7 linked regions of the Homo sapiens genome follow. The protein of the gene in region 5 purifies or fractionates together with the protein of the main gene of each other region. This does not show direct contact. Each region holds a gene or a part of one and is shown on either strand. Other genes may lie near its edges. The genes, in order: URB1, HS2ST1, FAM98A, GPC1, UXS1, VPS8 and LMBR1.

Region 1 (4,248 bases), on a different chromosome or scaffold from region 5:
TGGGACCACCATGGCAGAAAACAAAGTTGGTGGTTAGCGATTAACCAAAGAAGAGGACCAGTGTGGATAATCAGTCAGAATTAAGTCTGTATTCACTAATGAGTGTTGCCTTTTACAGATGACTTTTTGAGCATATTCCCCTCTCTTAACATTGCTGCATTAGCTCATATCTGCTAGGGGTGACACCCTCTCTCTGACCTGCCTACAACATAGACATCTCCACAGGCACAATCATCTTGTCGGGACAGAGGCTCAGCGTCAACACACGTGCTTTTTCTACTAGAAACTCTGAGACCCCAACAGGCCACAAAAGCCCACATCCTCAGATGTTCAAAACACATCTGCTTACAGAATATGAAACACAATTTTCTTAGACTAGAGGACAACCTGATGGAGAATTTCAGTAATCACCAAGTTACTTATCTAATGCGCTGGTTCATGATTTATTTGGACACATACCTAAGTATCGATGAAGTCGTATTAAAATATGTACCAGCCTGTTTTTACTTATTTTTACTTTCATTTTATTTCAGAGCATTTAATGCGGTTTACAAATCAATCACATCTTCCAAAAACACACTGTGTTGTTTTTCTCCTCAAAGCAGTTTTTCATACATTGCATCATTTTCTGTTCATAACAGTCCCAAGGACTGGATAGGGTCGGCTTTGCTGTCTCCATTTTAATGACAGGAACTTAGATGTGGAGGCCTTACGCTGTCCAGGAAGGGGTTTTACAGACGTTACTTCGTTTGGTCTTCTCCTCCCACCCTGCACGGCGCAAAGAGCCCATCAGTTTGCGGAAGTCTGGGGTGGAGGACAGTCTGGAGTGACAGGCTGCTACCAGACCAGTCGATCTGGTTCGGGCTGTGACATAAGCTAGGGGTCGAAGTCAGGGGCACCCGCACAGGCGGACCTGCCTGGCACCTAGCCAAGGCGAATCCACCTTCCCGGCCAGCCACCAGGGCCTTGAATTGGCAAAGTATCGAATCCTGTTGTGTGTGAAGCAAGCTCTTCATGCGACACCTTCAGGGCGACCTCGGGTCAAGAACTACTCATTGTGCTGCTTGGACGCGCCGGGGCCCGAGTCTTCGTGGATCGGCCAGGCCAGGAGTGAAAGGTCTGGGAGTTCTTCCGGCCAAGAGCACCCGAAGAGCCACTGGGATCAGAAATGCGCCCCGGTGGACCCCAAACCCTGCAGCCGGGGGCGGGGGGTGTCGTGGAGTGTCCGCTCGCCCCATGCCGTGACCGGGACAACCGGTACAGCAAACTCACATGGAGCCCCAAGACTCTGGATCCCCAAGACTCTGGATCCCTATCGCCCCGCCCCTTCTGCAGGCCACGCCCCTTCCGCCGGTCCCAGCCTCGCGCGGGTCGGCCCCTTCCGCCGGCCTTTCCCCGAGCCCCGCCTCTTCCGCCAGCCCCGCCTCTTCCGCCAGCCCCGCCTCTTCCTGCGCCATGTGGGCCTGAAGCGCGTGTCTGCTGTCTGTGCCAGTGCTCCTGCCGGGTCCCCTCAGGTGTGTCGTTTCCGTCGCGCTTCCGCCCTCTCGGCCATGGGGGTCCCCAAGAGGAAGGCCTCGGGCGGCCAGGACGGCGCGGCTTCCTCCGCGGGTGCAGCCAAGCGCGCCCGCAAAGAAGAGCTCACGGGCGTGCGGTTCAAGGCTCAGCTGAAGGACCCGCAGGGCCCCGGGCCAGGTGAGTCCGGGGCGGCAGGCGCAGGGTCGGGAGCACAGGCTGGCGAGGCGGCCTCCGTGTGCCGGGCACAGCCTCTCCTTTCTGCAGCTTTCGGGTCACATAGGCTCAGTGGCAAGCCTCTGGTTTGCAGAAAACTGAGGTTCAGGACTGCTGTGTACTTCCTTGCTCTGGACTGTCGGCGACAGCGAGAGGGCCCCGACTTGCTTGATTGGGACCGTTTCATGTTACAACACATTTATTTCCCTTGCCCAGGCAGCATCCCTCAGCGAGCTCTAAAACCTCTTTATTGCAGTTGTCAGGGAAGTAAATGAAGTGTCCTTCTCTATTGAGTCCTTACTGAGTCGGCTCAGGACGGTTCATGAGACAGTTTGCTACTCCTTGGGCCGTCAGCACCGTTTTCAATAGCTTCCATCCCCCAACACTCATACTGACTTGATGACTTGTAACAAGCTACTAGAAGCCACCACAGCTACTTGTCAGTTGACCAGGAATGGGCCAGTGACTGAGATGTAGCCGACTCTATAATTTAATTACACTTTTTGTAAAGTGTGACCACCCTTCGCGACTACTTGTAATCGTTTGGAAAGTAACATGGTTTGGGAAAAACGCAATTGAACGTGTTGCCATGTGGAAGCATTGCTCTAAAATAAAACAGTGGCAGTTTTTCTCCCAGGTTAAATAAACGATTAAATTAATGGCCAAAATATCTTCAACTTCCAATTTTTGTCCTCATTTTTTTTTTTAAACGACAGGGTCTTGCTCTGTTGCCCAGGCTGAAGTGCAGTGGCACTATCATAGCTCACTGCAGCCTTGAACTTCTGGGCTTAAGCTGTCCTCCCACCTCAGCCTCCCAAGTAGCTGAGATTGTAGGTGCACAACACCATGCCCAGCTATGTTTTTTTTTTTTTTTTTACTTTTTGTAGAGATGGAATCTCACTATGTTGTCCAGGCTGCCCTCGAACTCCCAGTCTCAAGCAATCTTCCCACCTTGTCTTCTCAAAGGGCTGGGAGTATAGGTATGAGCCACCACACCTGGCCTGTTTTTAAACTTTGATACCTATACCTGTACTTGCTAGTCACAGCTAGGAAGATGATACTTAGTTAGCATAGAGTTATTTATTTCCGAATTCATTAAGTATTACTAGAGGCTATTATTTGCTACGGTAGAGATAAAGTGATGAATAAAAATGTCAAAAAGCCTCTGCCATTGTGGGGTTTACAAACAGTCGAGTGGGGCAGGCAGATATTGGTCAGTAAAATCACATACATACAGTTTCAAGCACGAGTTTTCCAAAGGAGAGGTACATGGTGCCTGAGGGTGTTTAACAGACCTTGGATCTAATCTGGGAGCTCAAAGAAGGCTCCCCTGAGGAAGTGGCTTTTCTTTTCTTTTTTTTTTAATCATACTTTAAGTTTTAGGGTACATGTGCACAACGTGCCCCTTTGTTACATATGTATACATGTGCCATGTTGGTGTCCTGCACCCATTAACTCGTCATTTAACCTTAGGTATATCTCCTAATGCTGTCCCTCCCCCCTCCCCCCGACCCGACAACAGGCCCCGGTGTGTGATGTTCCCCTTCCTGTGTCCATGTGTTCTCATTGTTCAGTTCCCACCTATGAGTGAGAACATGCGGTGTTTGGTTTTTTGTCCTTGCGATAGTTTGCTGAGAATGATGGTTTCCAGCTTCATCCATGTCCCTACAAAGGACATGAACTCATCGTTTTTTATGGCTGCATAGTATTCCATGGTGTATATGTGCCACATTGTCTTAATCCAGTCTATCATTGTTGGACATTTGGGTTGGTTCCAAGTCTTTGCTATTGTGAATAGTGCCACAGTAAACGTACGTGTGCATGTGTCTTGATAGCAGTATGATTTATAATCCTTTGGGTATATACCCAGTAATGGGATGACTGGGTCAAATGGTATTTCTAGTTCTAGATCCCTGAGGAATCGCCACACTGACTTCCACAATGGTTGAACTAGTTTACAGTCCCACCAACAGTGTAAAAGTGTTCCCATTTCTCCACATCCTCTCCAGCACCTGTTGTTTCCTGACTTTTTAATGATCGCCATTCTAATTGGTGTGAGATGGTATCTCATTGTGGTTTTGATTTGCATTTCTCTGATGGATCTAATTAAACTAAAGAGCTTGTGCACAGCAAAAGAAACTACCATCAGAGTGAACAGGCGACCTACAGAATGGGAGAAAATTTTTGCAATCTACTCATCTGACAAAGGGCTAATATCCAGAATCTACAATGAACTCAAACAAATTTACAAGAAAAAAAAAAACCCCATCAAAAAGTGGGCAAAGGATATGAACAGACACTTCTCAAAAGAAGACATTTATGCAGCCAAAAGACACATGAAAAAATGCTCATCATCACTGGCCATCAGAGGAAGTGGCTTTTCAAAAGGATTGTAGGATGGGACAGGGACAGGAACCTTACTGGCAGAAGAAAGAGCACGTTTAATTGTTAAAAAGATGTAGTATCTATATTTCATGGTCTTGCACAGAGAGCCTCATGACATTCAGGTGCTACATCATT
Region 2 (4,248 bases), on a different chromosome or scaffold from region 5:
GATAAGTAAATTAAACCAGGTCTCCTTATTAGAGACTACCCGAAGAATTAAGCTAGGATAAAAAAACGTAAAAGCTTTCAGCACTGTGCCTAAAATTTTACTATTCACACAGCAGAACATGGATATGAGAAGAAATAAGTTAAAAGTACACTTTTCCCATTCAAAGGTCACCCATCTATTCTGCCAATAGAGAAAAATGAAATAAAAAACGCTGCCTTAAAGAAGACAACGAACATCATTTAAAAAACTAACTTCAAAAATGAATTATACTTTGGTATAGATAACTCCTTTTACTCCAACAACATTGTTTAAAAGCACAAATCGCACTCAAGCGCAGCCAGCCGTATATGAATAGCAGAGGAGAACGGAAGTTAAGAGACTAACAGAAGTAGTGAAAATGAGAGAGCACGCGCGCGAGAGAGGTAAACACAAACTGTTCGCCTGGACCAACGACTTGAAGACTTGCCTCTAAGAGTTGGAAGTCTCGTCATGAGTCTCTTGCATTTCTGTCCATTTAAAAACAACCTCCACTTCTTGCCAAGCTTTATTATTCCCCCCTCCCACCTGGTGTGGTTTACAGATTGTTTTTAGCAAGAGCCGTATAAGAGAAGCTACGTACCCAAGACAATCTGAAATCAAGAGAAAACTGCTGCTAGAAACCCAAGGCGGGGAAGGAGAAGGATCAACCGAGAAATTAAGCCACGTTGCATTCTGGCCGCAGCAGTCATTAAGGAAGCGCAGTCCTCCCCACCCTTTTCAACCAGGACCGAATGTTGCGTCTTTCTCAGCTGCAATCACTCCTACTCTCCCTGTGGCAGCTGCGAAGGTGATCTACACTCACCGCTTGAAGCACAGTCGCCAACAACAACCGTAGCCCAAACGCCGGCACCAGACACCCACTCGGCCCAGCCGCCATCGCTACCATTTTCCGCAGGTTTCTGGCTGCCTAGAAGGACCCCTAAGCTAGGGGCGTCCACTCCAGAGCCTGATCCAAAACAGAACGCTAACGGCCGTTGCCCTTACATCTCTCATTTGGAAGTGACAGGTATTAAATAACGGCATATGAAAGCTTAAAAGTCATCAAATACAATCACTGGGTGCTTTCGATTACCCAAATCAGGCACTTGCCTAAACTCCCCACTTCTTTACTTCTGCGGTCTCCTTTCTTTTATTCACGACACTTCGTCAAGCAGCCAAGAAGCCACGCCTTCGCCAGTTTTAGCCCCGCCTTCTTCTCCAAGTTTACCCAATTGAATGTCGTCTTGATTGAGCTCTGTGGCAGAGGAAACCAACCGTAAACCGAACCAAGAGCGAAGCGCAGGGGCTCTTCCGTCCAATAAGCGGACCCGAACGGGGGGAGGGGCGGGGCTTCTGGTTGCCGAGCAGCGTACGCGGATGCGTGCGCGTGGTGGCGGAGGGGGATGGGCGGGGGCGGGGATGAGGGCGGCGCAGCCGCAGCGCCGGTGGAGGGGCGCGCGGCCGCGAGCAAAGGAGGGAGGGAAGGAAGGAAGAGAGGGAGGCGGGCAAGCAGGCGGGCGCGGGGGTCGGGGACTGAGGCAGTAGAGGGAGGCGAGAGCCCGGCAGCCGCTTCGCGCTGTTTGCTGCGCGGGCTTTTGGAGGGGGCGGCCGTTTAGTCGGCTGAGGAGAAGCGGACACCAGCGGCGTTGGTGATAGCGCCTGGGGGAGGGGGACTGGAGAGGCGAGAAGGGGGGTCGCTGCGGTGGTTCTCTCGCTGTCGCTCTCTCTTTGCCTCGCTCCCGGCTCGGCGGGCTCCTCCCGGCGTCTCTCTCGCCTCCGGGGTCCCGCTCCCCGCCCCCCGCGGTATGTCTTGATCCCGAGCAGCGGGTTTCATGGGGCTCCTCAGGATTATGATGCCGCCCAAGTTGCAGCTGCTGGCGGTGGTGGCCTTCGCGGTGGCGATGCTCTTCTTGGAAAACCAGATCCAGAAACTGGAGGAGTCCCGCTCGAAGCTAGGTGAGGAACTGAACTGCCCCGGGCTGAGTGCTGTGGAAGGGGCCGAGGAGGCGCTGCCGCCGGAGCAAGTGGGCGTTCATCTAACCTGGGGTCTGGCTCGGGGGCTGAAAGCGGTTTCAAAGAGAACCGGGAACAAGGGGCAGCGAGAGCACGAGCTCCAAGAATGGGTTGAATTAAGCTTGAGCGGCGTGCTGGGCTCGCGAGGTCACGGGGCAGAGGTTGCAAGGTTGGGCTTCCCTAGCCAAAGGGTAGCCCCGAAGTAGGCATTCCGCGGAGAGAGAGCGAGAGAGAAGACCGAACTCAGTGGGGAGCGTGTGTTGCTGGTCTCCGGAGACAGAAGCGCTTAGCATCGCGTGTTCTCTTGGAAGTCGTACAGGAAGCCCTGGCAATGTCAGATGAGGGGTATTCTAATTTGAGCTATGGGCATCTGGATACGAATTCTTTTGGGGGCTCATGAAGGGATAGGTGCGCAGAAATGGGAGGAGATGCTGGGATGACGGAGAGCAACATGTGAACACTGTAGCGAGTTGCACTCTTGTGCTCCGGGCAGCAAAGGACCTTGTAATTGCCAGCTGAGGGAGGCTGGCCGGGTAGTGCGGGAACGCGAGTGCAAAGCTTCATCGGAGTACGGAAATGAGGGTCCGGAGATTTAAATTCTTCTTTAGTGGCGCTAAACTGATGAATTGGGGCTTGAGAATAGGGATGCCTATGTATGTTGCTTCACGGCAGTGTTGATGTGAATTTCGAAGAGGAGGGAACGCTGAAGGGGAATTATGTAGTGAAGTTTGTGTTTGTTAAAGGAAAAGTAGGATTATGCGGAAAGCTAACCATATGGTTAAATACCTTAAAGGGTTAACAGGTGCTTTAATGGATGAGGGGGTCTAAAGTACAAAAAGTTGGTGTGAAGTTGTGAAAGACAGGCCAGAAAAAAGCACAGATAATAGGTACTTTCGGATTAATAGGGCACTTTGGCATTTGGAAGAGCTCAGCATGGAGAGCGAGAGTTAAAAGAATGACAGTGATAAATTTTGATTTAAAAATGTACATGGCACTTAAAAATCAGCTCAAGAGGATGTAATTTGAATATGGAAAAGTAATGTGAAGTGTTTTTTGCATACTCTCACCTCAAAATCATTTTAAATACCTTTTGAGAAGCCAGCAAAAACAAAAACAAAAAACCCTCAGCAGTGTAATTTAGACTAAGAAATAGATGTTACTGTGAGTGGATGATTAATTTTTAGGAAAAATGTACCAGAAAATAATTGTAATATTATGTATAGTAGCTATTTTGGTACAAGGCTTTGCAAAAGCCTTGACATTTTAAAGAGCCTTGAAAGAAAAACCATCAAGTAAATCTGAGTGAAGTGCAACTAAAGTTGGAGGAAAACTAGAGTTACTTCCAGCCCTCAATTCTAGAGTAAAATTTGAAGAGATACTCAGTTTATTTACGAATTCCTTTATTAATATGTATCTTGTGTGGTGGAAAAAAATGTCCACTTTAAATATTGAAGGTTATCCAGTCTGGTTTTTCTTTTCTTTTGGATCCATTTAGCGACATTCAGGGTCATATTCTGGCGTTATTAATGATCCAGCTCTACAGAAAAAAAGACTCCTCTTGAAGTGGAAAGTTATATTAAAATTAAAATTTGTACTTATTTTTTGTTTTGTTACTATTTGGAATTGTCTGGAGTTGATTTCTTAGACACGTTACAGTGGGTTAGAATGACTTAAATTTTTGATTTTCCTCCTTTCCTAACATTTCTTTCCCCATATACTTGAAAATTGCTTCCATAGACACAATCTGAATGATTTTTAAAAGAAAGTTATCTGAAGATGTATAATGCCACAGTTAAAATATAAAGTGCTTTCTTGTGATACAAGAAAGAAAATTTCATAAAAAGTAGTAAATATGCATCAAAATCCTCCTGGGACTACAGATGGGTATACCTGGGAGTACAGGTGGGTGTTACCATGCCTAGCAGAGGAAACCATATTTTGACAACCATATTCTGTACTAGGCACTTTTCATCGTAGATACTCGTGTTTAAAGTAAGAACACCATTTAAAGCCATTTTTGACCAGACACGGTGGCTCACGCCTGTAATCCCAGCACTTTGGGAGGCCGAGGCCGGCGGATCATTTGAGGTCAGGAGTTCGAGACCAGCCTCGCCAACATGGTGAAACCCTATCTCTACTAAAAATACAAAAATTAGTCGGGCGGGGTGGCGGGCGCCTGTAATCCCACCTACTCAGGAGGCTAAGGCATGAGAACCG
Region 3 (3,070 bases), about 73 Mb from region 5:
TGAATTACCTGAAACAGATTGCAGCCCCCATTATACCAGGCTGAAATCAGCACACAAGGGGATGATACTGACACAAAGGGAACCATGCCAAAAAGTGCTTTGAAGGTTTTATGGTTGTTTTGAAGGGAATGGGGTGAGGAAAGTAGGGGGAAGGGAGTCCTGAGAAGAATATAGATGAAAGAGGGCTCTCTTTGATTAGCCAGAGGGCAACATAAGATTTGGAGACCATGGGAAAGGAGCTCTGGGGTGCCTTCCTGCTTCTCCTGTGAGTTAAGCTTTGACTTCTTATAAATGTTGTTTCACACCTCTTCTGGACAGGCTCCTAATTAATGGGAGACAAGAGAGCAAGGTAGTTGTGTCATTGATGCTCACAAGTAGTGAGAAGTTAAAAAAAAAAAATTAATTGTCATTAAAAATTGGTCACCTGCCTTCTTTTGCAAAATTTTTAACAGATGCCAACCCCTGTTCTGGAGGTTCCTTAATACCAGAATTCAAGATTCCAAATTTTTAGATGTTACTTACCTCGATCCTTCGGTTTCAAAGAGAATCGCTTATTTTAAAATTAACATTTAAACATTATATATCGCTTAAATAACTGAATTACATAACCAGTTTATTTCTTATTTCATTTGCAGGTAAAAGTAGTTTTTCTTTCTTGTTTTTATCCATTCTTGCAGCTTTAACAGTTACATATCAATAGGTCTATATAGTTGTGACTCCAGACTTATGACTATAACTATAGCTGTATCTCATTTTGAAATCTTATTTTGTTTACTTCAGCATACCTCATCTCAGAACTAGAAGCTGCCAGAATGCTCTGTGTGAATGCTCCTCCAAAAAAAGCTCAAGAAGGAGGCGGTAGTGAGGTCTTTCAAGAGTTGAAAGGCATATGTATTGCTCTAGGAATGTCCAAACCTCCAGCCAATATAACTATGTTCCAATTCTTCAGCGGGATTGAAAAAAAAGTAAGACCTTTAGTACCAAATTGTAGTGTATTAAAGGCATAGTCCTACATTTGTTTGAAATGAAGCAATTAATTTAATTTCTCTTAATGGGAACCTAATGTGCATATATTATTAAGTAATTGTTACGAAATGAGTTTTGGGTTTTAAATCCTAGATGCCTTAAAGATAAATTAGTATTTTAGTATTTTCCTAAAAACATGTTAGCATGTTTCTTTTTCAAAAAGGAAACTTTACACTGGTTTGTAAGCTAAAGTAAGCTAGATATAATGTAAAAAGGATTAAGATTTCAGTCCTTTTAAAAATTATTTTATCATTGAACTTTGATACAGTCAATTTAAGTTCTTTATCACTAAATGTTACCACCCTCCTCCCCATTGACTGGACAGAAAGGATATTAATATTTTTGTTTTTTAATCCAGTCACTTCAAACCTCATGCTTCAATTGACAAAATAGATTTGTTGACTGCTAACATAATCTAGTATGTGAAAAGAAATTAGAATTATTTTTATACCACACATTATCAGTTAAGATTTTCTATATAATTAATTAGGAACAAGCAATTTTAACAAAAATGAGTAGAAGAGAACGGTATTTGTTAAAGCACAGTTATTCCCTATACGCTTATCTGCTGGACTCTTAAGAATTGGTACATTTGCATTGTGGGGTAGACCAGCACCATGATGCACAAATTTGGCTGAACTCTACAGGGGAGCAGCAGTGTATCCATAGTCCATATTTTCCTGTGTGTTCATTCATCCATTCAGCAAATGTTCATTGAGTGCCTACTGTTGTCAGGCACTGTTCTAGGTGCAATGAAGGACTTCTGTAGGCGTGAGGAGTGGGACCAGTGAGTGTCTTTATCTTGTGGGTCTTTTACATTTGCATTTCAAAACATCCTCCACCTTTGCCTCTGTCAGGAATCTTCTTTTGATGGCAAGATATGATGGGAATTGGGAAGATGAGGATGTTTTACTTTTAGAGTTTTTATTCATTTATTTATGTTTTTGTGTCAGTTAAAGGAAACATTAGCAAAAGTTCCACCTAATCATGTGGGAAAGCCTTTACTGAAGAAGCCAATGGGACCAGCCCACTGGGTGAGTAGTAATCATCTTGAGTAAACTTTGTAAAGAACTATAGAGTTTATGATTTTCATGTCAACACTTACATTTTGTGCTTTTTAAATTATGTTTTCTTATACATAGTTTTCTAGTTGAACACCCTTAGAATCATTTTGTGAATCTCAGGATTTCTGCAGAATATTTTTATTTGTGTAAGATTAGAAGCACTTTTCTCATACTTTGTAAATATTTCACACAGCTGATAAAAGTAAACTGAAATTAAGTATGGTGCATGTTTCTCGTTGCCAAATGGATTGCCTTCAAGCCAAAAACTTCACTGGGCTGAGCTTCACACAGTAAATTATGGGAAAGATAAATAAGAATTGTGTACTTCACATACTCTTCATTATGTTTTGTGAATCAGCTTTTTGTCACCTATCATTTCATTAATTGTTAGTATATTATATGGAATAAGAACTTTTGACTGTTAAATGGCCGGGATCTCAGTTATGAATGACACAGACGTAGTTTTTGCCCTTTTGGGACAGAGAATCAAGCAGATTTAAACTCTAACTAGTCTTTTTAATTTTGCTTCAGGAAAAGATAGAAGCAATTAACCAAGCCATAGCCAATGAATATGAAGTCCGGAGAAAGCTGCTAATAAAACGTTTGGATGTCACTGTACAATCCTTTGGCTGGTCTGACAGAGCTAAGGTACACATTAAATAATTTAAAAGAGCAGACTATTTATAGACATGATCCCTGAACATCTAAACAATTTAGCTACTTGGCAACTATGGGAGAAGTACATAGAAGACACACATAGGGATTTTTCCTTAGTGAGTTATTGAGTAGTGGCTCTTTCAACTATTCAGCAATGATGAAAACATTTATTTTTCAATTTTCTATTTTTTAACAAATCTGAATTTTACAGTTCTTATTGGAGAGAGAAGTTCTTATTATGAGAGAAATGGAGTTATTCTGAAAATTACTAAAATAATAAATTGATTTCAAATTACTTGTTTACTTTAAATAATTTAATTTGC
Region 4 (3,500 bases), about 130 Mb from region 5:
TGGCCGCCACTCAGCCCTTTATATCGGGGCAGGAGTCTGGGGGCCGCGGGGAGTGACCCCTGCAGGCCTTGAGGCCCCGCCAGCTGCTGCATTAGAGCCACGTACTCCTCGGCCCAGGCTGGGCCTCGCCTTGTGTCTGGGCAGAGAGTGGCAGCCACCCCCAGGGGGACAGTGTGGGGTCAGGAGGTCCTCCATGAAGTGACCTCTGATCAGAAACACGAGGACTTGGTGGAGGGAGGCGGCCCGGGCTGAGGTACTGCCCCTGTGTCCGGGCGGAGCCAGGGCGCCGGGACAGTGAGCCTGGGCAGACAGGAGGGAGGGAGCGCTGAGGCTGCAGGGCTCCATTGTGGCTGTGAGGGACGGCAGCTGCTGCTGGGGCCCTGGGGTTTGTCTCAGCGTTCCTGCTTCTCCGGCTCCTGGACACCTGCTGTGGCCTCCCAGGCTCCCGGGAGAGTCTGCCTGTCCCCAGGAGCCCCCAAGGCCATTTCCACAGGGCTGTGGGACCTCAGCTGTTGGCGTACACCTGGGTAGCAGTGGGTCAGAAGCTCCCTCTCTGTGACTTGGACATCGATGCTCAGAGCTCAGCCCTCCCCGCTGGTGTGGGGCCCGTGGGATGCGCGTGGCCCCTCTGGGACTCTCCTTCCTCCTGCCCAGCTGGACCCGGGGAGCGAGCCCCTGCACCCTGAGTCAGGAGCCTTCCTGAGCCACTTGGTTCTGTCCCATGTGTAGGGACCCGGCTCACCTCCTCCACTCTATCCTGGGCCTCAGTTTCTCCCCAGCGCCGCTGAGCCCTGGCTCCCGCCCCAGCGTGCCACCCAGCCCTGCCCCTTCCCCTCTCCTGCTAATACCCTTGCCCATCACACCATCCTCCTGGCCTGGGGACATCCTGCCCGCCTGCTTCCTCCTGGCTCTTAGGGGGTTGGTGTCGCTGCCCTGCTCTGGGGCCTGTCCCGTGTCAGTGCCCTGCCGCCGCCCTCCCTCTGCTGCCCTCTGGAAGCCTCCAGCCTTCCTGTTCAACTCTCCTATCTTTGACCTGAAAACACAGACACCCTTTGGGGACATTTGTATTAAAAATGACCCACTATGTGATGTGCCCAAGGCCCACCTGTGCCCCTACCCCAGGGAGTCTTGTCCAACCCCCACCTCCTATGTCCTCCCCTCCCACCCCTGCCCATGGCAGCTGCTGTCCCCTCCCAGCCTCCGGGGCAGCTGAGGGCCCCTGGGTCTTTGTCTGCAGTGCTGGTGGGAACCAGTGGGAGGCGGTAGGAGGGGAGCCTGGCTGGACCTCTGGTTGCTGTGTTCAGGGATTTGGAGCCCTGTGTCCGCCCCCCCACCAGCCTTCAGGAGCAGCTGAATGGGTTCTGGCAGGAGGTAGAGCTGGGGACTGCACCTGGATTTGGCCCATGGCCCTCTAGGTGTGTCTGGGCTAATGCATGAACCACAAGCCGCCCCTTTCCGGGACAGGCCAGGGCGTTCCAGGCGCCAGGACCCAAGGTGGACACTGGACAGCTGTGTGGCCCGTCCACCCTCCCCACAGCGGCCTGGGAGCTCTCTGTAGCCCTGCCAGCCCTGAAGCCCCAGGCCTTGCCAGGGGTCAGCGTGGGGGCTGATCCAGAGATCTCAGGCTTGACGGCCCCCGTGCCTCAAAGGAGAGCCTCTGCCCTGCTACCCTGGAGCACCTTGTGGTGGGCCATCGAGCCCCCGGTACCTGTGGGGCAAAGCCGGCCACAGCCCTAGGGACGCTCTGAGCAGTTACAGACCTGGAAGTCCCACTTCCAAATGGGATGGGGAAGTCCAGGGTCCCATCTAGGCCCGGGGTACGGGGGCTTTTCCCTAAAGCCCCTGCAGCACATGTGGAGGTCTGAGGGTGAGCCTGTGCCTCCACACCCCCTGCCCAGCAGGGGAGATGTCTGGGGTTCTAGGCTGCAGGAGGCCCCCCAGAGCCCTCAGACAGGCCCGGGGTGCTCACAGCTGAAGCTTCTAAATCGCAGAAGCTGAGAGAAGACAAGAAGCCTAGGAGAGCAGCCGAGACAGGGTGGCGGGAGGGGCAGCAGCCCTGGAGACTCGCAGGGCAGGCGGCTGGGGCCACGGGGAGCACAAGTGGGGACCAGTGGAGAGAAGGAGCGGCTGGCAGGGGGGCACAGACCGGCCCTGCCCCTCTTACCCCAGTGAGTCCCCATCTCCACCAGCAGCCCCTCCCTGGGTGTTCTCAGGGGGTCACTGAGTCACAGAGCATCTGTTCTGCCCAGGGCTCAGCTCAGAAACTGCCACTGGAGCCCCAGTCAGAGGCCCTGAGACCCGAGAGGACCCCCTGCCACCTGGGCCCCTGCTCCCCAGGCCAGGGGGTGAGGTCTCGGGGCGCCCCATGGATGCCCACAGGGCCCACAGCCGCTGCAGTGTGGCGTCCGACTCCGAGGTCCTCAGAGTGTATCCTCAGAGCTGAGTCTCCCGGGCTGAGTCCCCTGCTCTGGTCCAGCTGCCACGGCGGGGGAAACATGGTCCCGATCACGCCCCCTCCCTGTGCGCAGACCACTTCCAGCACCTGCTGAACGACTCGGAGCGGACGCTGCAGGCCACCTTCCCCGGCGCCTTCGGAGAGCTGTACACGCAGAACGCGAGGGCCTTCCGGGACCTGTACTCAGAGCTGCGCCTGTACTACCGCGGTGCCAACCTGCACCTGGAGGAGACGCTGGCCGAGTTCTGGGCCCGCCTGCTCGAGCGCCTCTTCAAGCAGCTGCACCCCCAGCTGCTGCTGCCTGATGACTACCTGGACTGCCTGGGCAAGCAGGCCGAGGCGCTGCGGCCCTTCGGGGAGGCCCCGAGAGAGCTGCGCCTGCGGGCCACCCGTGCCTTCGTGGCTGCTCGCTCCTTTGTGCAGGGCCTGGGCGTGGCCAGCGACGTGGTCCGGAAAGTGGCTCAGGTGCGCACAGCCACCCAGGGCTCTCAGAAACCCCTCCAGACCCCCATGCTCTGCCCAAGGGACTTCCTCTTCCCCCTACTTTAACCCTGTGCCCCTGGGCCTCTGGGCCAGCCTCTGACCTCAGCCCCACAGCCTCAGTCCCTCCTGCATTGGCTGCTGCCCATGGCCTGCTAACAGCGTACCCACAGATGTGAGCCTTGCTCTGGGCAGGCGGCTCTGGGCTGGCCCATCCCTGCCCAGAACCATCATGGGCCAGGATGGGAAGGGCCAGGGGCTGGGGCTGGACGCTGAGCCAGGCTGTGGAGTGAAAGTGCAGAGGAGACAGAAGAGAACAACATGCGTGGGGGCCGGGCAGGGTGGGGCCCCAGAGCCTCGCAGGCCAGGGGGATGCCTTGGTCCCTTGCGGGGCACGTGTCAGACCCAGCTAAGCTGGGACATAGGGAGGGCGTCAGCCTCAGACCCACATGCCCTGGGTGGGAACTGCCCCCACCTCCAGGCTCCTGGGCAAGTCATGCCTTGGTTTCCTCAGCGGCATGCGGGTGAGGATATTCTTGCCTCCCTGTGACCCTCGAGATCATTA
Region 5 (3,989 bases):
ATAGTTTGAAAGATGTAACATAAAGCTGCTGCTTTAGTACCAGCTGCCATATTTCCTTTTCTTGGAGGTTTCTAATAAATCTAAAGGAGGGTGATCTATTAAGTTTTGCAAAATGGCCTGAGGTTCCAAGAGGTAGGAGAGCCGCTGCTGACTTCAACTTCTCCGTATAGCTGAAGATGACCTCTTGAAGCCTGCAGATCCCAAATCCGGGATCTCTCTTAATGTGGCATCACACACATCTGTGTGTACCTGTCTTTTTTTCCTCCATGGGACCAGCTCTCTCCAGATCCAATGACAAGCTTCCGATTATCTGTGGATCTTCTGATACATCTCCTTGCTTGTAATCATCATTCAGTAAATGCTTTTTAAACACAGGTACCTCCTATGCAATCAGTACAGCACTCATAAAACAGATATACTCAACAAAAAGATTGAATGAAACACACACGACAACATGGTCAGGGTTTTTCTCTAGGCAGAGACAGCGCAATTTCATCTTTTCTTTTCCAAGTCTATCCTAAATTAATATACTTAGCACTGCTTTTTAAAATAATAATAAAAGACTATTATTAAAACAAAGGCACCCCAGTTGATCATAGCCAAGGAAAAAAAACGCAGCCAGTTTTTACTTCGGCAAGGTTTAGGGGATTTATCATTTTCGCTGCCGATATTCTAACTAAAAAAAGCCAACTAAACAGCCCAGAGAACGAGGCAACTTTCTGAGGCAGGCATTCAACTTCTAAGGCTCGGCCAAGTTTAGCAAATAAGTTTCGTTTCACTGCAACACCGGAATGCCCACCGCGTGCCCCCCTCCGGGCGGGGCTCGGAAACTGGCCACTGCAGTCGTGCCCTTGGGTTGGGGACGCACCTCAGCGAAACGAATCCAGCCGCACCTCCCGGCTGGCACCCGCGCGCTTTAACTCAGGGAAAACAGACCGGAACGCGCATGCGCCGCGGCGCGCCGCACCGCCCACCAGCCCTCCAGGTCACATTCTTCGAAAACCAAGGCAAGAAAGGCGGCAACTGCGCCTGCGGGTAGAGAAGCCGGAGGGGCGGGGGCGGAGCCGGAGGAAGGGGGTGGAGGCGCGCCTGCGCGGTGATCCCGCCAGCAGGAAGCAGGCGCGCGGGGGCGGGGGCGCGCGGCGGCAGGAGGCGGGGCTCTCGGGGCCGCTGCCGCCGCCGCCGCCGCGCATTGTGCAGCAGGCGGGCCCCCGCGCGGTAGGGCCCTGGACCCGCGCGGCTCCCGGGGATGGTGAGCAAGGCGCTGCTGCGCCTCGTGTCTGCCGTCAACCGCAGGAGGATGAAGCTGCTGCTGGGCATCGCCTTGCTGGCCTACGTCGCCTGTGAGTGCGCGCCCGCTGCCAGCTGGGGAGCCCCATTCATTCCCCGGCGCCGCGGTGGGCCGGGCGGCGGTGGTTCGGGGCCCCGAGGCGGCCCTGCAGCCCCGCGTTGCTCCCCGCCCCGGGCGGGGCCGGCGCTTTCTGCTCCCACCCCTTTCCACTCTTGCAGCAAAGCGGGCCAACTTGGGCGCACACCCCCTACCGCTTAGGCCCGGGCGCGGACCCCGGGCGGAGGGGCCCCTAGCAGTCCTCGGGCGGCCCCAGGTCTCTGCCTCCTGCCCGGGCGCGGGGGACTCGGCGGCGGCGCTGTCGTCCATGTCGCGCTGGGAGCCGGCGAGGGTCCCGGTCGGGGACTCCGGAGCGTGCCGCGTGGGGATACCCTTGGGGACAGCCGAGGTCGCGCCGCGGTGTCGGTTAAGTCGGATAAAAATACTGTGGCCATTGGCAGAGCCCCCGCTCCGACTGTTTGCTCCTCAGGAAAATTACTCAGCGTTTAACTCTTGGGGAGCCAAGTGTGGGCGGCTCCCCGGCCCGCGGCCGTGCCCAGGTGTCGGGGCGCACCGGCATCCCCATTCTAGGTTTTCCCCCGGGGCTCGGCGGCCGGGCGAAGCAGGCAGGCAGCTGGGTGGCCGGGCAGGGCGTGCCTGCAGCTTCTCTGTGCGCGGGTCCAGTTTCTGTCATCGCTCACAGCATGCTGCCTGGAGACAGGGCAGGAGGGGCACTTCGCAGGCAGGTGGTCGGCCCTCTGCTTGTTAGGGAAGTCAGAAACCGTCCTTTTAAAGATCTATTCGTTGGGAATGTTTTAATTGATGCTATTAATACGTTACCAAGTAGCAAAATTGGACTAGAAATAGCTCCCAGTGTGAGCTGCGTTTGAATGCTAGCCACCCAGACACACACTGAAATGAAATCACCTGCTAACCTGTTGGCGTTACCAAGATCTGATTCCAGAGGTGAGTGGGTACTTCACTTGTCTGAAGTGACTTCAGTTGAGCTCTAGGAAGGCAAGTATGAGTAGATCCAGCCTGTGTGCTACAGCCCAGCTGTTCAGGAGGTGGAGCTGGAAAACCCCAGCAGGACTCCGGGTTGCTAGGGGAGGTTTCAGGCGTCGGATGGGTGTTAGATGTGTGTAGTTTTGCAAGGGAGGAAGAACTAGTCTAAAGTGTGTGTGTGGTCAATCTTGAGTAAGAAAGCTGAGACCCAAGAGGAAAGACCATTTAAAGTTGAATAACTATTATTATGGCAGTAATACTACCTACATTTGTTGAGTGCTTAACTGTGTGAGTCATGATTCTTAGTGCCATTGTCTCAATCATTGAGCAACCCTGGGAAATCGGTACTATAATGATTCCTATTTTAGAGGTGAGGAAGTTAAGGCCAAGAGAGATTAGGAAATTTATGGATGATCACACAGATAGTAAGAGAAGGAGGGCCAAAATTTGAACCCAGAAAGGCCTGGGAGCAGGAGCTAGAACCCAGGTCTTCGAACAGCAGTTTCAATGTTTATTTTGGGGGTATTCTATAGTCGCTGCAAGGGTTTAGAATTAATAAAGTAGGGGATTTATGGAGCCATGGGAAGTTTTTTTTTTTTTTTTGAGACGGAGTCTCGCTCTGTTCAGCCCAGGCTGGAGTGCAGGGGCGCGATCTCGGCTCACTGCACGCTCCACCTCCCGGGTTCACGCCATTCTCCTGCCTCAGCCTCCCAAGTAACTGGGACTACAGGCACCCGCCACCACGCCCGGCTAATTTTTTGTATTTTTAGTAGAGACGGGGTTTCACCATGTTAGCCAGGATGGTCTCGATCTCCTGACCTCGTGATCCGCCTGCCTCGGCCTCCCAAAGTGCTGGGATTACAGGCGTAAGCCACCGCTCCCAGCAGGAAAGTTTTTTAACCAATCATTCATCTGACCAGGAAATCTTACCAAGTCCTTACTGTTGTCCCTGAATTTGGCACTAGGAGACACCATGGGGTGCTAAAACTTAACTGGTCTGTGCTGTGATGGTACAGACCCTATACCACATAGTGTAGCACGTTGATTCTCAGACTTAAGCATGCATCAGAATCAGTAGGGTTTTTTTTAAAAAACACAGACTGCTTGTCTCCCACCTCAAGTTTCTGATTCAGTTGGTCTGGGATGTGGCCTGAGAATCTGCATCACTAATAGGTTGTTCTGTATGCTGTTGCTGTGACCTGACACCACTTTGAGACCCACTGGCCAAGATGGTGAGGTGGGCATGAATTGGAAATGAAGGTTAAATTACAAACTGGTGTGAGGAAAAGGAATGCATGAGAACTATGCCAGGAACTCCTGAGTGAGAGCAATCAGGTACGTTTGTTTTGTTGAGGAATCAAAAGTGAGCTGAGAATGGACGGCTTATGTAGGAGTTAACAGGGAAGTCATAGGAGAGAGCGTGTTCTAGGAGGAGCAGTGTGTGCAGAGGTCCTGCGGCAGCCAAGAGCAGGCAGTATTCTAGGAATGCAAAGAAGGATGGTATTGTTGGAGTGTGAAAACAAAATTACAGCCATGAGGCTGCCCAGGCAGACAGGGGCCAGAGCAGGCAAGCAGGCAGGCAGGCCTGGGGTGCAGCCCACGACATGGTTGATTTTAGCTATGAGGGGTTTAACACAGGGTGGAGGCAGTGTTAATA
Region 6 (3,470 bases), on a different chromosome or scaffold from region 5:
TGGATCTCCACCACCTAAAGAATGAGTCCAAACCCTACCATCTTCTTCACTCCCCAAATCACACCTCAATTCTAGGTGGTCCCATTTGTTCCTGAGCTTGTCTCGAGCTTGTGCAAACTGCTGTGTCCTCTGCTTCTCTACCTGGGCCCCCTTCACGCACTCCCCTTTCTTAGGCAGAACCTACTAGGTTACTTGGCAGCCGGAGGAAAGAGTGGTGCTCCTTCTTTGAGAGTTGGTGTGGGCAGAGGTTGTTATTCCAGGAAGTTTCTCTAGGGGTCTCCTGGATGCAGTCCAGCAGCTTTATTGAACTGGCCTCACCCCCATCCCTTTCCAGCCTCAGCTAAGCTCTGCCCCAGGAGTTGGGTTTCTGGGCCTTCCAAGGAGGTTCTTCTGCTTCAAACTGTTGAGCCCTTATTTAAGGCTCATTGATTTCCGGATCACAAAGTTACCAAAGTGGAACACAAAAATATCTGTTTTCCTGGGAAATAATTTTTTTTTTTTTTTTTTGCAATTGATCTTCCCACCTCACAGTGTCAGGATGTGAAAGCATTGAGTTGAGCGTCTGTGGCTCATTCTGTTCAAGGCATCGTACATAACAGTCATTGCAGAGAACGTCGCAGGCTGATGGGCAACTGAGAGGGTTACGGAAGAAGGAAGTGGCACGAAGTGGACTCTTGGCCCCTGGAGTAGTGCTTGAGTCAGAGTTACTGAGTTGTGAATGAGACCATACATGTGTCTCTGGGCCAGGACCTGGACCACTTTTGATAAATTGACACTTAGAACTTAGGGGCCTTCAGATGTCTTCCCAGTTACCACAGCCACTGGTACTGAGTTTTCCACAGAAGTGACACATGGACACGTGAGCTTGTGCCACCATTGCCTGTGTGAGGGAAAAACCCTTTGCCAGAGGTCGGAGGGCACCTCGAAGACATGGTGCCTGGCGGGTGAATCCCACACCGCCACTCACTGCTGGTGACCGAGGGCAAGTCACTGTGTTGTGAAGGATGAGAAATAACACACATGTCAAGGATCTAGCAAAGTGCCTGTCATGGAAAGACACTTGATACAGTCACCAGAGGTTGTTAGACATCCCCTCGGACTCCTGGAGTGTTTGGTAGACACAGACAGGGCTGCCCTGAGGAGTCTGATGGCCCCCTCGTCTCAGCTGTACACTCCCCATGGACCAGGCTTTCACTGGCCTCCATGTGAGCCTACACAGGGTCCCTTAGAGTGTTGGTAGTGGACACAGTGGCCCATCCCACAGGTCCCAACTACTGTTATTAGGGACCATTTTGACCTGGGCTCTGAGTTCTCCTTCACATTAGCTCTGTGGGGTGGAAGTTAACTCACAATGTTCTGGGAAGCAACAGGCAAAGACCCTAATCAGGCAGGAAGTCTAAGGACCTTGGGTGTAGAATTCGTCTCTCCTCTGACCATCAAGGGCACCTCAAGAGCCAGGCTGCCAGCTCCCTACTTTCGCAGAAAGCCTCTTTAGGTGAAAGGGATGGTCCCCCTGAGTGGCAGAGCACTGGCTTCCCAACAGGCCGACATTAGCATCTCCTCCTACCCTTCTGTCCTCCTTGGCAGGTCTTCCAGAATTGAGCCACTGACAGAACGAGGGTACTGCTAGTGTCATTGGTGGGAATAAGGAAGCTGGGAGCAAAGAGGACTCACTTGAAGGAGAAGGTAGAATCCAGGGGTTCCACTCTGGAACCCCTGAGTTTGAGTTGGCAGCTGGGTGTCTGTTTGAGGCCTTCCAGGTTACAGAAGAGAGGTCAGAGCCAGTGGTCATAATTAGTCATTCACCCCGAGGAGAGTGCACCAAGATGGAGAGGTTGGAACAAGCAGAGCTGAGAACAGAGCTCCTCAGCCCAGGGCGCGTCCACAGGGAGAGAAGGGTGGCAGCAGGGCCATCCACAGCAGCTGGAGGAGCCCTCAGCACAGGGCCAGCCCAGGGTGGGAGAGCTCTCCAGTGCCAGAGAGAGCACAGTTTGAGTGCCCTTGGGAGCAAACCAGTCCAGTCTCATTATTGAATGAGGAAATTTAGACCCTAAAAAATGAAGTGAACTTGCCCAAAGTCACACTGCTCGTTTGTGATATATGGACCTAAGATTCAAACCCTGCATGTTACTACTCCTGCAACACAGCACTGTCTCTCATGTATCTGAAGCAGTGGATTCAGGAGCCTCTCTTCCCTCTGCTCCCCACAAACCTTAGCTGATGTGTGTCCTTCCTTTGCAGCTGGCTCTCCTCACGGAACTCTCCCAGAATCGCAGCAGCGAGAGCTATAGGCCATTCAGTGGCTCGCAGAGTGCTCCTGCTTTCAACAGCATCTTCCAGAATGAGAACTTCCAGCTGCAGCTCATTCCTCCACCTGTGACTGAGGATTGATGACTCCATGGAGCCTGGCCCAGGAGAACCAGAGATGATCCCGAGGCAGCTGGGGAGAGGCCCCGCCTCTGGTGGGCTTGGCCTCCACCACCTCCCACGCTTCTGAGAAGAGGTTCCAAATTGGGCTTCTGTGCCCAGAGCGTCCACAGCACCATTCCCAGTGTAGACTCCCAGTCTTCTCCACATTGCTGTCATGGCGTCAGTTCACCAGACTCATTGATTTTGTTTTGCTTGTTAAGCAAAGGAATGTCACATACCTCTGTCCAGCTTTTTAGGAAATACATTTCGCCTATTGCGACTTTTTCCATTTACCCTGAAGCCTAGAAAGTAGGTGGAACTCACACAAATGGCATTCCAGAGTCTGCCATACTCCGTCTCCTCCAGCTGCTGGATAATACAGAGGAACTTCAACTTCTACAGGGAACAGTGGTTGGCCAGGCTGCAGTATAACTGAAGCATGCCTTGGAGAGAGCAGACACTGTGGGGGCCAGGGCCATCTCCCTTTAATGTGTTCATGTTAAAACCTATTTGAGTGTAAGACTTGCCCTTTCTAACAATAAATGCTCCGTGTTTAAGTTCTGCAGGTCTCCTGGCTGGCTGGCTCTCAGTCTGTCAAGTCATGGAGGACATTTCGAGCCCTGTTGTCACAATTTTATTAGCTCAAAGTCAGGAATCCTGCCTGTGACAACCCTCCTTAATTCAGATAAGCAGCTCCATTGTCAGCTGTATTCAGAGCAGCCCAGCCACCCATATGCTCCCGTGACAGGCGCTGGGCTGCCAAAGAGAATAGTACTCAGTTTTTGGCCATGGGACTTCGTATATCATTGAACCAACTGCCACAGGAGGTCGCCACACCCAGACACCTAGGTTTCCACCTTACATACTCAGATGATCCTTTTCTCAGTGCAATGGAATCGTCAGGCTCTCATGGACTGATACTAACCAAACCCACAGGAAATAGATACATAAACTAGGTAGAAATTTTTTTTTTTTTGAGACAGAGTTTCACTCTTGCTGCTCAGGCTGGAGTGCAGTGGTGCTGTCTTGGCTCACTGCAAGCTCCGTCTCCCAGGTTCAAG
Region 7 (3,500 bases), on a different chromosome or scaffold from region 5:
GTGTTTAATGTAGCAAACTGGTTTTAAAACTCTGATTTTTGTCTGGGTATCGTAGTTCGTGCCTGTAATCTCACCATGTTAGGAAGCTGAGCGGGGAGGATCGTTTGAGCCCAGGAGTTCAAGACCAGCCTGGGCAACATAGCAAGAACCTGTCTCCACAAAAAATAAATAAAAAAATTAGCCAGGCATGGTGGCATGTATCTGTAGTCCCAGCTACTTGGGTGGTTGAGATGGGAGGATCACTTGAGCCTAGGAGGTTGCAGTGAGCTGCGGCTATACCATTGTGCTCTAGCCTGGGTGACAGAGCAAGGCCCTATCTGTAGTTTTTTTAGTTTATGGAGGAAAATTAAAAGTAATTTATGTTTTTTAAAAAGAAATTATGTATAAAACAGATTATAGCATTATGGAAGGAAAATGTTAATTTGGAGAAAACTTTGTTTTATTTTGTTTTTCCTTTTAATAGAGAGGCGAAAAAAGGCTTCAGCATGGGAAAGAAATTTGGTGTATCCCGCTGTTATGGTTCTCCTTCTTATTGAGACAGTAAGAATTTATTTGCCTAGTTAAATAAAAGCAAATTATATTTTATTTACTTCAGCATTTGAGTATGGCAGCTCCCTCAGCTAAATGGTTTTTCATAAACTAGTTTTCTATCAACAGGATTAAAATCCATCTATGCCTTTATTTATGAAAATCCAATAAAGCAAAAATGGAAATTAATGGCAATTTAAAAAAAATTCTGAAGATTATCTGTTTCTTCATGAAAGCAGGAAATTCAGTCTTTGTTTTCATTGAAAATTAAGAAAACAAGGTGTTGCAGATAACCTGCTTTAAATTCTGTGATAAAATATGAAAATTACATTATGAAGTTAGTTCTGATAATATTTTACCACTTTTTTAAGTCTGTGGAGTTGTGTGTTTCCAATTGGTGAGATCACTTAGTAAAAGGATCTATATACTACCAGCTTTTGTCACAAGCTTTGAAATGACAATAACTTGCAGAATCTTTTAGAATTTCTTCAGTTCTTGTTTGTAGTCTGATTACTTTAGTTTTATATATAGCGTTTTGGTCTTGACTGCTTTCCCTCTATTCTGAAACGTGTATTTGGTTACCTAGATTTTAATATTTTGTATTGGTGAAAAATCTTGAGAGCTGACAGTTTGCTGTTTGTCTTGTAGTCCATCTCGGTCCTCTTGGTGGCTTGTAATATTCTTTGCCTATTGGTTGATGAAACAGCAATGCCAAAAGGAACAAGGGTAAAGTAAAATCCTTTAAAATGTCTTTCTTTTGCAAAAGTATTCTATGTCTATACCCTGAGTATTTCAAGTAAGCAAATGAAAACATTCACCTTTGTGCATGTATATACTTCAAGTTGTATGAATTTCTTTATGCAAAGAGCCTTTAAAATATAAACTGTGATTTTTGTTTCTAATTTTTTACTTTGGATTGACAGGGCCTTTTTTCAAGTGTTGGAATTTCCTTTTAGATTTCTTATCAGAGTTTATCTTGATTTTACTGAAATTCATTTAGCTATATGAAATTCCTTTAGCCATAGTCTTGATTCAGATCCCCCCACCTGAGTCTTTCCAGGACCTTGTGCCATCTGTTATTGCCATTGTTGTATTCACTTACAGCCTCTTCTCCATGAGTACAAGCCCACCATCATGCTCCAGGTGCCTCATCCTACAGACAGACAAGAAACTACCCTTTGCCATGTACAGTCTTATCTTTTTCTTTAGTTTTATACCCAAACCCACTGATAGAACAGGAAGTCGCTTACTATACTGACTTCCTAGTCACTTTTAACCCATTTTACTATACCAACAAAACAAGTCCCAAGCCCTATAGTATATTTTTGTACCCATCCCCCTTAGTGCTTAGTGGAGAATGACTTGTACGTCATAGGAGATCCCTGTATAATTGTGTAAAAAAATTAGATACTCTTAATCCTTCCTACATGGCTTCTCTTGAGATAGCATAATTCCAAAGTATTATCTCTGTTGATCAATAAGCTTCTGTAGGGGAGAAGAAGTAATACCTTTTTCTAACCTATTGGAAGGTTCATGGCTGAGATGCCTATAACAAAAGATTAATAAGAGAAAAGCTGACAAACTTATTTAAGATAAGTTTTACATATCACAGGGGTCTTCAGAAATAAAGAAGACCAAAGAAACAGAAAAAGCTGTGTACTTTTATGCTCTGGTTTGTTGAAGAGTGGACAGTAGTGGGAAGTATGATTGGAAGACAGGGGTGTGATCTAATGATTATAAACCGGGGGGATTTAGCAAGGCCTGTTCATATTCTTCTCGGTGTCCTCGTGTCTCCGGAGATAAACATGTGCTTCTCCTCTGGGTGGGTTGCGGGGGGCACCCTTGGATGGGGGTCTTATGGCCTGCTTCGCAGGAGAAGGAGACAGATCAGTGTGTGACCTTCCTAGGTTTTCTCAAATACCAGGTCCCAAATTTTGGAGTAGTGTGTCTTGAACCCCATCACTTTCTACCAGCATCATTTATTTCTTCTTCAAAAGATTGTCAAAAAGTTATTTTTTATTGGGCTGACTGTAGATTCTTAATTATCCCTGGTGTTTCTATTAGATGTAATCTGTGCTGACTAGTAAAACATTCAGATAGTTTCTTTTATTAGTAATCTTTGAAAATACTTCAGTAGGGAATGATTTTTTCAGATCTAATTATAAAAATAGTAACTTTTTTGTGTTTTTTTTTTAAGTTCTAGGTAAAGATAGTTTTTGAGATAGGGATAATTGTTTAGGAAAAAATTTATAGCATTACTTTTTTAAAAATCTATGTTAACAGTTACATCCTTTGTAACTCTGAATTCCCAAGGAAAATTTGGGCAAAGGAAACTTTCAGGTATGGGAACAGGATATGCACATTTACTCTCTTTCTACTCTTAGCTTAATTTTGACATACTTGAATTGTGTAATCTTTGTATATTGTGTAAGCATTCAGATAGCTATGTATCCTATTCTTATTTTTCTATTGTGTTTTTAAAAACTCTTTCCCAAAACTATTCAGGATTTTTTTCCTCAAGTGGCAAGTTGCCCCATTTTATAACAGTAAGCATAATCATGTCATCTTGACAAGTAACTTAAATTACATTTGAGATAAGTAATTTTTCTTGAGCTTATTAAAATTGTTAACATGGTGCCTGAATTTGTTGATGAAATCAGTCTAATGTCATGTCTTGTTGGCCTTTGAAAGTCTAGATGTTATTTCAAAGTAGTAAACATTCATAATTTCAACTGTCTTATTTTATGAAACAGCTGTTTTAGGGAAACCAATATAATGGTGTCATCAAATTCTGAAAAGTGTCTTTCTCCCACCCCAGGGGCCTGGAATAGGAAATGCCTCTCTTTCTACGTTTGGTTTTGTGGGAGCTGCGCTTGAAATCATTTTGATTTTGTATCCTTTCTTTAACTGAACGTTCAGCCTATCCACAAATTTTATACCAAGTTTTCTGGGGCAGTAGTTATTTACTAAGA

The links.
Region 1: the proteins of UXS1 (region 5) and URB1 purify together in Homo sapiens (co-immunoprecipitation; one large-scale study listed by IntAct). This does not show direct contact.
Region 2: the proteins of UXS1 (region 5) and HS2ST1 purify together in Homo sapiens (affinity purification with mass spectrometry; 2 studies listed by BioGRID and IntAct, with this or other methods). This does not show direct contact.
Region 3: the proteins of UXS1 (region 5) and FAM98A purify together in Homo sapiens (co-immunoprecipitation; 3 studies listed by BioGRID and IntAct, with this or other methods). This does not show direct contact.
Region 4: the proteins of UXS1 (region 5) and GPC1 purify together in Homo sapiens (co-immunoprecipitation; 2 studies listed by IntAct). This does not show direct contact.
Region 6: the proteins of UXS1 (region 5) and VPS8 purify together in Homo sapiens (affinity purification with mass spectrometry; 2 studies listed by BioGRID and IntAct, with this or other methods). This does not show direct contact.
Region 7: the proteins of UXS1 (region 5) and LMBR1 purify together in Homo sapiens (affinity purification with mass spectrometry; 2 studies listed by BioGRID and IntAct, with this or other methods). This does not show direct contact.

Annotation. Positions count from the first base shown.
Region 1 is NC_000021.9:32,390,213-32,394,460, reverse strand, and holds the start of URB1 (nucleolar pre-ribosomal-associated protein 1), read left to right. Parts: upstream 1-1,448; 5' UTR 1,449-1,550; coding exon 1,551-1,692; intron 1,693-4,248.
Region 2 is NC_000001.11:86,913,187-86,917,434, forward strand, and holds the start of HS2ST1 (heparan sulfate 2-O-sulfotransferase 1), read left to right. Parts: upstream 1-1,448; 5' UTR 1,449-1,850; coding exon 1,851-1,974; intron 1,975-4,248. UniProt on the Homo sapiens protein: Catalyzes the transfer of a sulfo group from 3'-phospho-5'-adenylyl sulfate (PAPS) to the 2-OH position of iduronic acid (IdoA) or glucuronic acid (GlcA) within the heparan sulfate (HS) chain and participates in HS biosynthesis.
Region 3 is NC_000002.12:33,586,230-33,589,299, reverse strand, and holds part of FAM98A (protein FAM98A), read left to right. Parts: intron 1-780; coding exon 781-965; intron 966-1,979; coding exon 1,980-2,060; intron 2,061-2,621; coding exon 2,622-2,738; intron 2,739-3,070. UniProt on the Homo sapiens protein: Positively stimulates PRMT1-induced protein arginine methylation. Involved in skeletal homeostasis. Positively regulates lysosome peripheral distribution and ruffled border formation in osteoclasts.
Region 4 is NC_000002.12:240,459,663-240,463,162, forward strand, and holds part of GPC1 (glypican-1 precursor), read left to right. Parts: intron 1-2,528; coding exon 2,529-2,920; intron 2,921-3,500. UniProt on the Homo sapiens protein: Cell surface proteoglycan that bears heparan sulfate. Binds, via the heparan sulfate side chains, alpha-4 (V) collagen and participates in Schwann cell myelination.
Region 5 is NC_000002.12:106,191,502-106,195,490, reverse strand, and holds the start of UXS1 (UDP-glucuronic acid decarboxylase 1), read left to right. Parts: upstream 1-1,189; 5' UTR 1,190-1,249; coding exon 1,250-1,343; exon of another isoform or gene 1,344-2,217; coding exon of another isoform or gene 2,218-2,293; intron 2,294-3,989. UniProt on the Homo sapiens protein: Catalyzes the NAD-dependent decarboxylation of UDP-glucuronic acid to UDP-xylose. Necessary for the biosynthesis of the core tetrasaccharide in glycosaminoglycan biosynthesis.
Region 6 is NC_000003.12:185,049,635-185,053,104, forward strand, and holds the end of VPS8 (vacuolar protein sorting-associated protein 8 homolog), read left to right. Parts: intron 1-2,241; coding exon 2,242-2,391; 3' UTR 2,392-2,970; downstream 2,971-3,470. UniProt on the Homo sapiens protein: Plays a role in vesicle-mediated protein trafficking of the endocytic membrane transport pathway.
Region 7 is NC_000007.14:156,725,684-156,729,183, reverse strand, and holds part of LMBR1 (limb region 1 protein homolog), read left to right. Parts: intron 1-463; coding exon 464-540; intron 541-1,176; coding exon 1,177-1,254; intron 1,255-3,346; coding exon 3,347-3,420; intron 3,421-3,500. UniProt on the Homo sapiens protein: Putative membrane receptor.